Homo sapiens: one gene and its partner. The protein of the gene in region 1 purifies or fractionates together with the protein of each later gene. This does not show direct contact. Each region holds a gene or a part of one and is shown on either strand. Other genes may lie near its edges. The genes, in order: SLITRK6 and PHLDB3.

Region 1 (4,370 bases):
ATACAGGCAAGGAGAGATGAATAAAAGAGATGAATCCACAGCTTCATGTTGTCATGTGATGAAATCCGATTCTGTAAAATAAAACGCAATAGCAAGGGACTTTAGTGGGCAGAACTGGGGAGGAGATGAAGCTGATATTTTCAAAATAATAGGTTTTTCTCCAAAAAGCAAATGACGGATTACCATGAAAATATGGGTACCTTGCTGCATTTACATCATTTGTTTCTTTTTTTTTTTTCCTAATACTCAGACAGGCAAGTCTGGCTGACTTTTAACTTGCATTGTGTTCAAAATATAAAATTTAGGTCAAGGGGGATTTAAAATATTATATCATAAAATTTGTGCTCACATCTGATGAATAACCTGCATTTTAACAGATGAGAGAGATGCTGCCTTAGAGCACTGATACTTCACTGTGATGCAAAGTTATATATTTGAAAATATTTTTTAACCTTATGGTCATACATTTAAGGCTGGAGGATTATAGTAAAAGACAATTACATAGTTATTAGCCGTAAGCATAGAGAACTGTAGGGAATGTAAAAAATGATAAAAGAATGTATGTGTGCATATGTGTATGTGTGTATGCATGTACGCATGTAGCATGCATTGTCTTTATATTGTTGAACTGGGTGTCACACAATAACATCTAATAACTGTGTCTGTGTTTTAACCTGCTTCGGTTTTGGCTATATATATATATATATACTAATTTTATTGTTTATTTTGAAAACCTTGAGGAAAATGCGTCTTTGATCATGTTATAAAGTACAGTACTATAAGAACTCTTTTAACTATTCAATCAAGGGTAGTTTGTATAAGCGTAATAGTATCAGATACATACACTTAAGTGTGACCATTCAAATTTCACTTAAATCATTATATTTAATATTGAATTTCTAGAAGCAGTATATTGCTTACTGCTTCTTAATTACGTTATAGATGAGGTGGAAATGATAAAAACTAAAGAAGCAAGATTAATCTTTAACACACATTTCAGGCTGTTGTAAAAGAATAAACAATGCTTCATATAAACTTCTAGCAAATGACTTCCTAATGAGGTCTTGAAACAGTCTTTAGGGCACGGAATGTCATCACATAATTAAGCAGCTTTAAGCCTTTATTAAAAGGCTTAAAGTCGCAAACAATGAAATCTGAAACAAACTGTACCATATTAAACTTTTTGATGATATTTCAAATTCAGTAAAAGAAAAAAAGGATGGTTCAGAATAACATCACGTATTCTAATCCTGAAACACATAACAAATGCATCTGAAACAGCAATTCTTAAAAAGGTTTTGCCCTTTAAATGACAGTTATGCAAGGTAAACATTTATAGCTCTAATGAGATCTAATTTTATTTCCTTCCTTTAAATATTATACTTTAAACTTATATAAACTAAATTGAAATATAAACACATCTTATGACTATTCAACTTTTCAAAATAGTAATCAGTTTTCATTTTTGTTGTTTGAAATATGAACAGTAACTGAATCAAATTAAAATTCACAATCAGGTAAAACATACCAGAACCCAATCAACAATCCTGAAAGTAAACTTGCATTCCCTGAAAACATAGTGTTTTATTGAAAACACATATAGTACAAAGTTCCTGAAAGGCAAAAGGCAACTGAAGAAACAAAACAACATACTGCCTCTGTGTAAAGGGAAAGTTAGAAGATTTTATTTTTCTGTAGGTAAATAATTTGATTTTAAACAGCTTTGTGTGCTGAGTTTATAAACAAGCAGCTTGTAGTTGGAGTCTTCAACTTGTGGATTAGCTTCCACAATCACTAAAAGTACTTATTCATAAATTACCAAGAAAGAATAAGATTTATTTCACCAGGTATAGCATCAGAGAAAATAGTAAATAATTTTTCAGTGATAAACTCTTGTTATTTTGTAAATCCTGTATGAATTTTATGCTCTTCAAAACGTGCTAGGAAACAGTTTCTAATCTTTTCAGAAACACACACAGATGTGAAAAGTGGTTCTCTACTGACAATATCTGATACAGTGGTAAAGAGGTCAAAAGATACTCATTGACATGTTTTCTGAGAATACGTATTTTCAAATCAGAAAATAAGTAGCATACAAAATGCAAAGAATTATTCAATATTCTGCTTATATTTGCAATTCAACATTCGCATTTGGAAGTGATCCTTCCTTCAGAAAGCACACATATTTAGTTTCTAACAACAAACTGCATGTTGCAAAAGAAATAGTGGAATATTATATTTGTTCTTCTCTGTAGCCAGCTGTTAGACTAAATGTCTGCTTCTCAGAGAATACAGGCATCTGCTCCAGTGTTAGTTGTGCCAGTAAGCAAGAATGAAATTGAGTATCCTTTAATGCAAAGTTGTTTATTTAAAGGAAGCGAACATACAAATTCAATCACTTTACTATAATGCAAAAATAAGTATAAGAAAAGCCTGGAAACATTCATCTTACCTGTAAAGCAGAGACTCTTCCTGACGTTATCTGTAATGCACAGCTGGAAGAGGTGTTCAAAGTAATTCAATTCCTTTATTAAAAAAAAGAAAACACCAACCACTGCGTACTTTCTTCTCAAATATCACTTTTTGTCAAGTCCCATAGCTTCATAAAGTTAAAACCTCTGGTCAAAGATAGAATACTGAGCATTTCATTGAAAATATTTCAAGCAGAGTGCATACTAGAGCATCCTGAAGCAATTGTCCCTTTTTCCCTCAATTAAAATTCACGGCATACTTCACAGCTATGCTGACTTTTTTGCATATAGTTAACCATTTGCAAGCTGCTGAATGCAGTAAGTAAACAAGATGTTTAACAGAGCTGAGATTGATCACTCTTGCTTTCTTAGGTTGTAGATCCAAGCTACAGCAATGTTCTCCTTCCTCCTTTTCTAGTATTTCTTGTTAGCTCAGTTTGTTATTAGTCAGATTGCCAAGGGCTGGGAGGTAGGCGTAAATAAAGAGACTTCTTGGCTTTTGACTCAGCCTTTAAGCCCTTCCCCATCAGAGCGTTTTAATCTGCCAGTGTCATATAACACAAGAGACAGCTCCACCTTGGGACTGCTCAACTCCTCCTCTTTCTGCAAATGGTCTTTCCACTCCTTTCAATACCAAATATAGTGCAAGTGAATTTTGATGGAAATAATAACACGTCATTTTAAATGCTTAATAGTACATTGTGTTATAGCAAGCTAAATAATACGTTATGTTAAATTCTCAACTAACACTGTTCTGTAGTGTTTGCACACATGTGTGCAGGAAACACAAGAATGCTGCCTATAGAGTAGTTGCCTCTTTTTTTTCTTTTTTTTTTTAAATCTGGTATTTATAGTTGAAATTGTGCACTAACTAGATTGTAAAATGTTAACACGAACTGCTTCCCTGCAATATTTGTATTTTTGTATTCACCATTTAACTTTTTTAAAGCCTTATGTTAGGGACTCTAAGTTTTTACTTCATTATTTCTTTCCCTAGAGCTAATATTCAATAATTAAACTTAGAAATGAAGATCTTTCAGTTATTTTAATATATTTATTTAGAAGAAAAGCATAATTATTTTAAAATATATTTAAAAATCTTTAAACACAAAATAATTATCATTGATAAAGTTCTGTTTATCACTTTCAAAAATATAACATTATATCTTTACAGATAAAATGAAACAAGTGAAATATGTAGATATTACAATAACCTGATTTGTATAGTGCTAGCTCAGAGAGAATTTATTCTTAATAGGTTATATCTTAAAAGTTGCGTGTTTCTTCAGCTCTTAAAAGTTTCTGAATCATCACCATTATTACTCTTGTCAGATTCCTTATTTCTCAAAAAGCCTGTGGTTTAAAAAGTTATTCTTCTTACCTACCTTCCTGAACTTTTTCACATCCAAAGTGCATATACTAGATGCTGTCTTTTATTTGTTTATTCTGTTTAGAATAAATACAGATTCTAGAGGCCTTCTATGTAATAGTAGGTGTCATTTCAGAAAGTGCTGTTTTTAAAAAGGAGAGTTGATATAGTTTAAATCATCAAAATAGAAGAATATCACATTATTATTTAATGACATACACTCAGATTGATATAGTTTTATCGTCTCAGGGTGGTATATTGGCTCTAAACACATAAGGGCTCTGTGGGAATTTTCAGTATTCTCACTTTACTTTATATTTCCCAGTAATTAAGTTTCTCGTTTATTTTAATGACATTTTGTGCTTTAACATGGAAAAGAGATGATGATACAGAGGAGGGGGTTCGAAAATACAATAAAAATAAAAAAATGAGAGAATGAAGAGTATAAGTGAAGTTAAATATAAATAATTAGTGTTTGGCACAATTTCCTGCTAGCTGCTAGCCAAATTAATTAAATCAAGGTAATTATT
Region 2 (3,824 bases), on another chromosome or scaffold:
CGCCTGTAGTCCCAGCTACTCGGGAGGCTGAGGCAGAAGAATCGCTTGAACCCGGGAGGTGGAGATTGCAATGAGCTGAGATCGCGCCACTGTACTCCAGCCTGGGCGACAGAGCAAGACTCTGTCTCAAAAAAAAAAAAAAAAAACACAGAAAAGAAAAAAAGAAATGTCCGGAACAGGCAAATTAACATAGAAATGGGAAGTAGAATTGTGGTTGCCCGGACTGGGGTAGATCGGGGAACCGAGAGGCTAAGGGATGCAGGGTTTCTTTTGGGGGATAATGAAAATGTTCTAAAATTGATTGTGGTAATGTTTGCGCAACGTTGAATATACTAAAAGACACAGAACTGTACATTTTAAATGAATGAATTGTATAGGGACGTGAATTATGCCTCAATAAAACTCTTTCTAAAAATCCCACTGTGGGCCAGGTGTGGTGGCTCACACCTGTAATCCCAGCACTTTGGGAGGCCGAGGCGGGTGAATAACTTGAGGTCAGGCGTTTGAGACCAGCCAGGCCAACATGGTGAAACCCCGTCTCTACTAAAAATACAAAAATTAGCCAGGTGTGGTGGCACATGCCTGTAATCCCAGCTTTTCAGGAGGCTGAGGCAGGAGAATTGCTTGAACCTGGGAGGCAAAGGTTCCAGTGAGCCGAGATCTCGCCACTGAAATCCAGGCTGGACGACAGAGCGAGACTCTGTCGCAAAAAAAAAAAAGTCCCACTGCAGCCAGGCGCAGTGGCTCACACCTATAATGCCAGCACTTTGAGGCTGAGGCAGGCAAATTGCTTGAGCCCAGGAGTTGGAGATGAGCCTGGGCAACATGGTGAAACTCTGTCTCTACAAAAAAATAGAAAAATTAGCTGGGCATAGTGGCACGTGCCTGCAGTCCCAGCTACTGTGGAGGCTGACGTGGAAGGATCGCTTGAACCCCGGAGGTCAAGGTTGCAGGGAGCTGAGATTGTGCCACTGCGCTCCAGTCTGGGCGACAGAGTGACAGCCTGTCTCAAAAAAAATAAGTAAAACAAAAAAACAAAAAACCCACCGTGCTGGTGGCTATGTAGGAAACCCAGATGCCCTCACATGATACTGGGGGTGTTCTACTGGAACAAGCTTTATGGAGGGCAACTTGGCTTTTTTAAAAAAAATCTGAATGACAAATGCATAAACCATGGAGCCCCAATTCCAATTCTAGAAATTCAGCGGATGGATACACTCATACACATGCAAAGTGATCTGAGTTCAAGGTGATTCCCTGCAGTGCCATCTGTGCTAGCAAAAGCCTGGAGACCACCTAAATGCCCATCAGAAGGGGACAAGGTAAATGAACCATGGCTTATGCACTCCATAGACCATTTTTTTTTTTTTTGAGTTGGAGTCTCACTCTGTTGCCCAGGCTGGAGTGCAGTAGCACAATCTCGGCTCATTGCAACCTCCGCCTCCTGGGTTCAAGCGATTCTTCTGCCTCAGCCTCACGAGTAGCTGGGATTACAGGCATGTGCCACCACGCCAGGCTAATTTTTGTATTTTTAGTAGAGATGGGGTTTCACCATATTGGCCAGGCTGGTCTCGAACTCCTGACTTCAAGTGATCCACCTGCCTCGGCCTCCCAAAGTGCTGGGATTACAGGCGTGAGCCACCGCACCCAAGTGACTCTAAGGACAATTCTGCAGTGTAGAACAAGAGGAAGATGCATCCTACATCCAGGTAGAACATAATATCCAAAAAAGAAAAGAAAAAAAACAGAACATAATATCCAAGAGAAAACCAAGGCCAGGTGTGGTAGCGTGCACCTGTAGTCCCAGCTACTCAGGAGGCTGAGGTGGGAGGATCACTTGAGCCCAGGAGGTTGACCCTGCAGTGAGCCATGATCATGCCACTGCACTCCAGCCTGGGCGACAGTGAGATCTATCTCTTAAAGTTTTTTTTTTTTTTTTTTTAAGCGAGTACAGAACAGCATAGAATAAACTAGGTATGCATAAAAGAGGGAGAAAGTACATACATGACTAGCTGTGTCAACACAGAATATCTCTGGGGAACACATGGGAAATTGGTAACCCTGGTGGCCCTCAGGAAGTGAACAGCGTAGGAGGGGGAACAAGAGCCGCAGAGTCTTCTCTGAATATCCTCCCACACCATGTGAATTTTGAACGAGGAGAATGTTAACTTTTTAAAAGCAAATAAACATGACAACTAAATGCAACCTGTGTTCCTGAGCCAAGAAAAAAAAAGTTTGTTTTTTTTTGTGAATTTTTTGCTAGAAAAAACACTGGTGGGGCCAGGAACAGTGGCTCATGCCTGTAATCCCAGCACTCTGGAAGGCCGAGGCAGGCAGATCACCTGAGGTCAGGAGTTCGAGACCAGCCTGGCCAACATGGTGAAACCCCGTCTCTACTAAAAATACAAAAATAAGCTGGGCGTGGTGGTGGGCACCTGTAATTCCAGCTACTCGGGAGTCTGAGGCAGGAGAATCACTTGAACCAGGGAGGCAGTGGTTGCAGTGAGCCGAGATCACACCACTGCACTCCAGCCTGAGCGGCAGAGCAAGACTCTGCCAAAAAGGAAAAAAAAAAAGAAAGAGCAAGAGAGAGAAAAAGGAAGGAAGGAAGGAAGGAAGGGAAGGAGGAAGGGAGGGAGGGAGGGAAAAACATTGGTGGAACAACTGACAAAATACAAATAAGGTCTGTGGATTCTAATAGTGTTGTCTCAGTGGTAGTTTCCTGAAATCGATCATTGAACTGTGGTTGTGTAAGAGAATGGGCTTGACATTAGGTAGTAAATTTAGGAATATTTAGGGGTTAAGGGGAATCATGGGTAAGAAAATAATGGGCCAGGCATGAAGGCTCACACCTGTAATCCTAGCACTTTGGGAGGTCCAGGGAAGGCAGATCACTTTAGCTCAGGAATTTGAGACCAGACTGGGGCAATATAGTGAGACCCCATGTCTACAAAGAATACAAAAATTAGCCTGGCGCATGTCTGTAATCCCAGCTACTTGGGGGGCTGAGGCAGGAGAATCGCTTGAGTCTGGGAGGTAGAGGCTGCAGTGAGCCAAGATCGCACCATTACACTCCACTCCAGCCTGGGCGACAGAGCGAGACTGTCTCAAAAATTGAAAACTAAAAAAAATAAAAACTCTGGGAGTTGAGAAATGTTAGCTCCACTTCACAGAGAAGAAACTGAGGCTCAAATCCCCGTGCTTTACTTGACTTTTTCCTTCCTTCCAGCCACATTCCCAGCACTTCCTAGCTGGGAGATATTAGATACTTGGCACTGAGGAACCAAGTGGGCAGGTCAGACCCCAGCTTTGTCTGCAGGGCACTTATGTTGTAGGAACTGCATAAGCCATCAGCAGGCCATAGAAACAGGCCGGTTCGGGTTCAAATCCCAGCTCTGCCACTTCCTGGGTGCATGACGTAGGCAAGTCATTTCTCTTCTCAAGCGAGGTGTCCTCTCTGTAAAGTGGGTAACATCTCACTGCCCTTCCTGGGTTGTTGCAAGGATTAAATGAGTGACCTCCTGCAATGCATGTAGAAGCATGCATGGCCCCCAGGTGAGATCCAGGAGCTAAGCAATGATCCACATTGGTGGGTACAGGGTGCACCTGGGCTTAGAGGCCTTCTGTGCACAGGGGCCAACAAGTCAGGTGACAACTCCATAGGACTGGACATGGCGTCCCACCAAATATTTTCATATATGCAATTTACTAATAAGGGTAATTGCTATCCTAAGTCACGTTGCCTGGCAACACAGCTGACACCTACCTTCATCAGGTTTCCAGGGGAAGCAGCCAGAAAGTTAATTTCCCATACAGAAGAACAT

What was found.
Region 2: the proteins of SLITRK6 (region 1) and PHLDB3 purify together in Homo sapiens (affinity purification with mass spectrometry; one large-scale study listed by BioGRID and IntAct). This does not show direct contact.

Annotation. Positions count from the first base shown.
Region 1 is NC_000013.11:85,796,462-85,800,831, forward strand, and holds the start of SLITRK6 (SLIT and NTRK-like protein 6 precursor), read right to left. Parts: upstream 2,959-4,370; 5' UTR 2,453-2,958; intron 72-2,452; 5' UTR 48-71; coding exon 1-47. UniProt on the Homo sapiens protein: Regulator of neurite outgrowth required for normal hearing and vision.
Region 2 is NC_000019.10:43,487,447-43,491,270, forward strand, and holds part of PHLDB3 (pleckstrin homology-like domain family B member 3), read right to left. Parts: intron 1-3,824.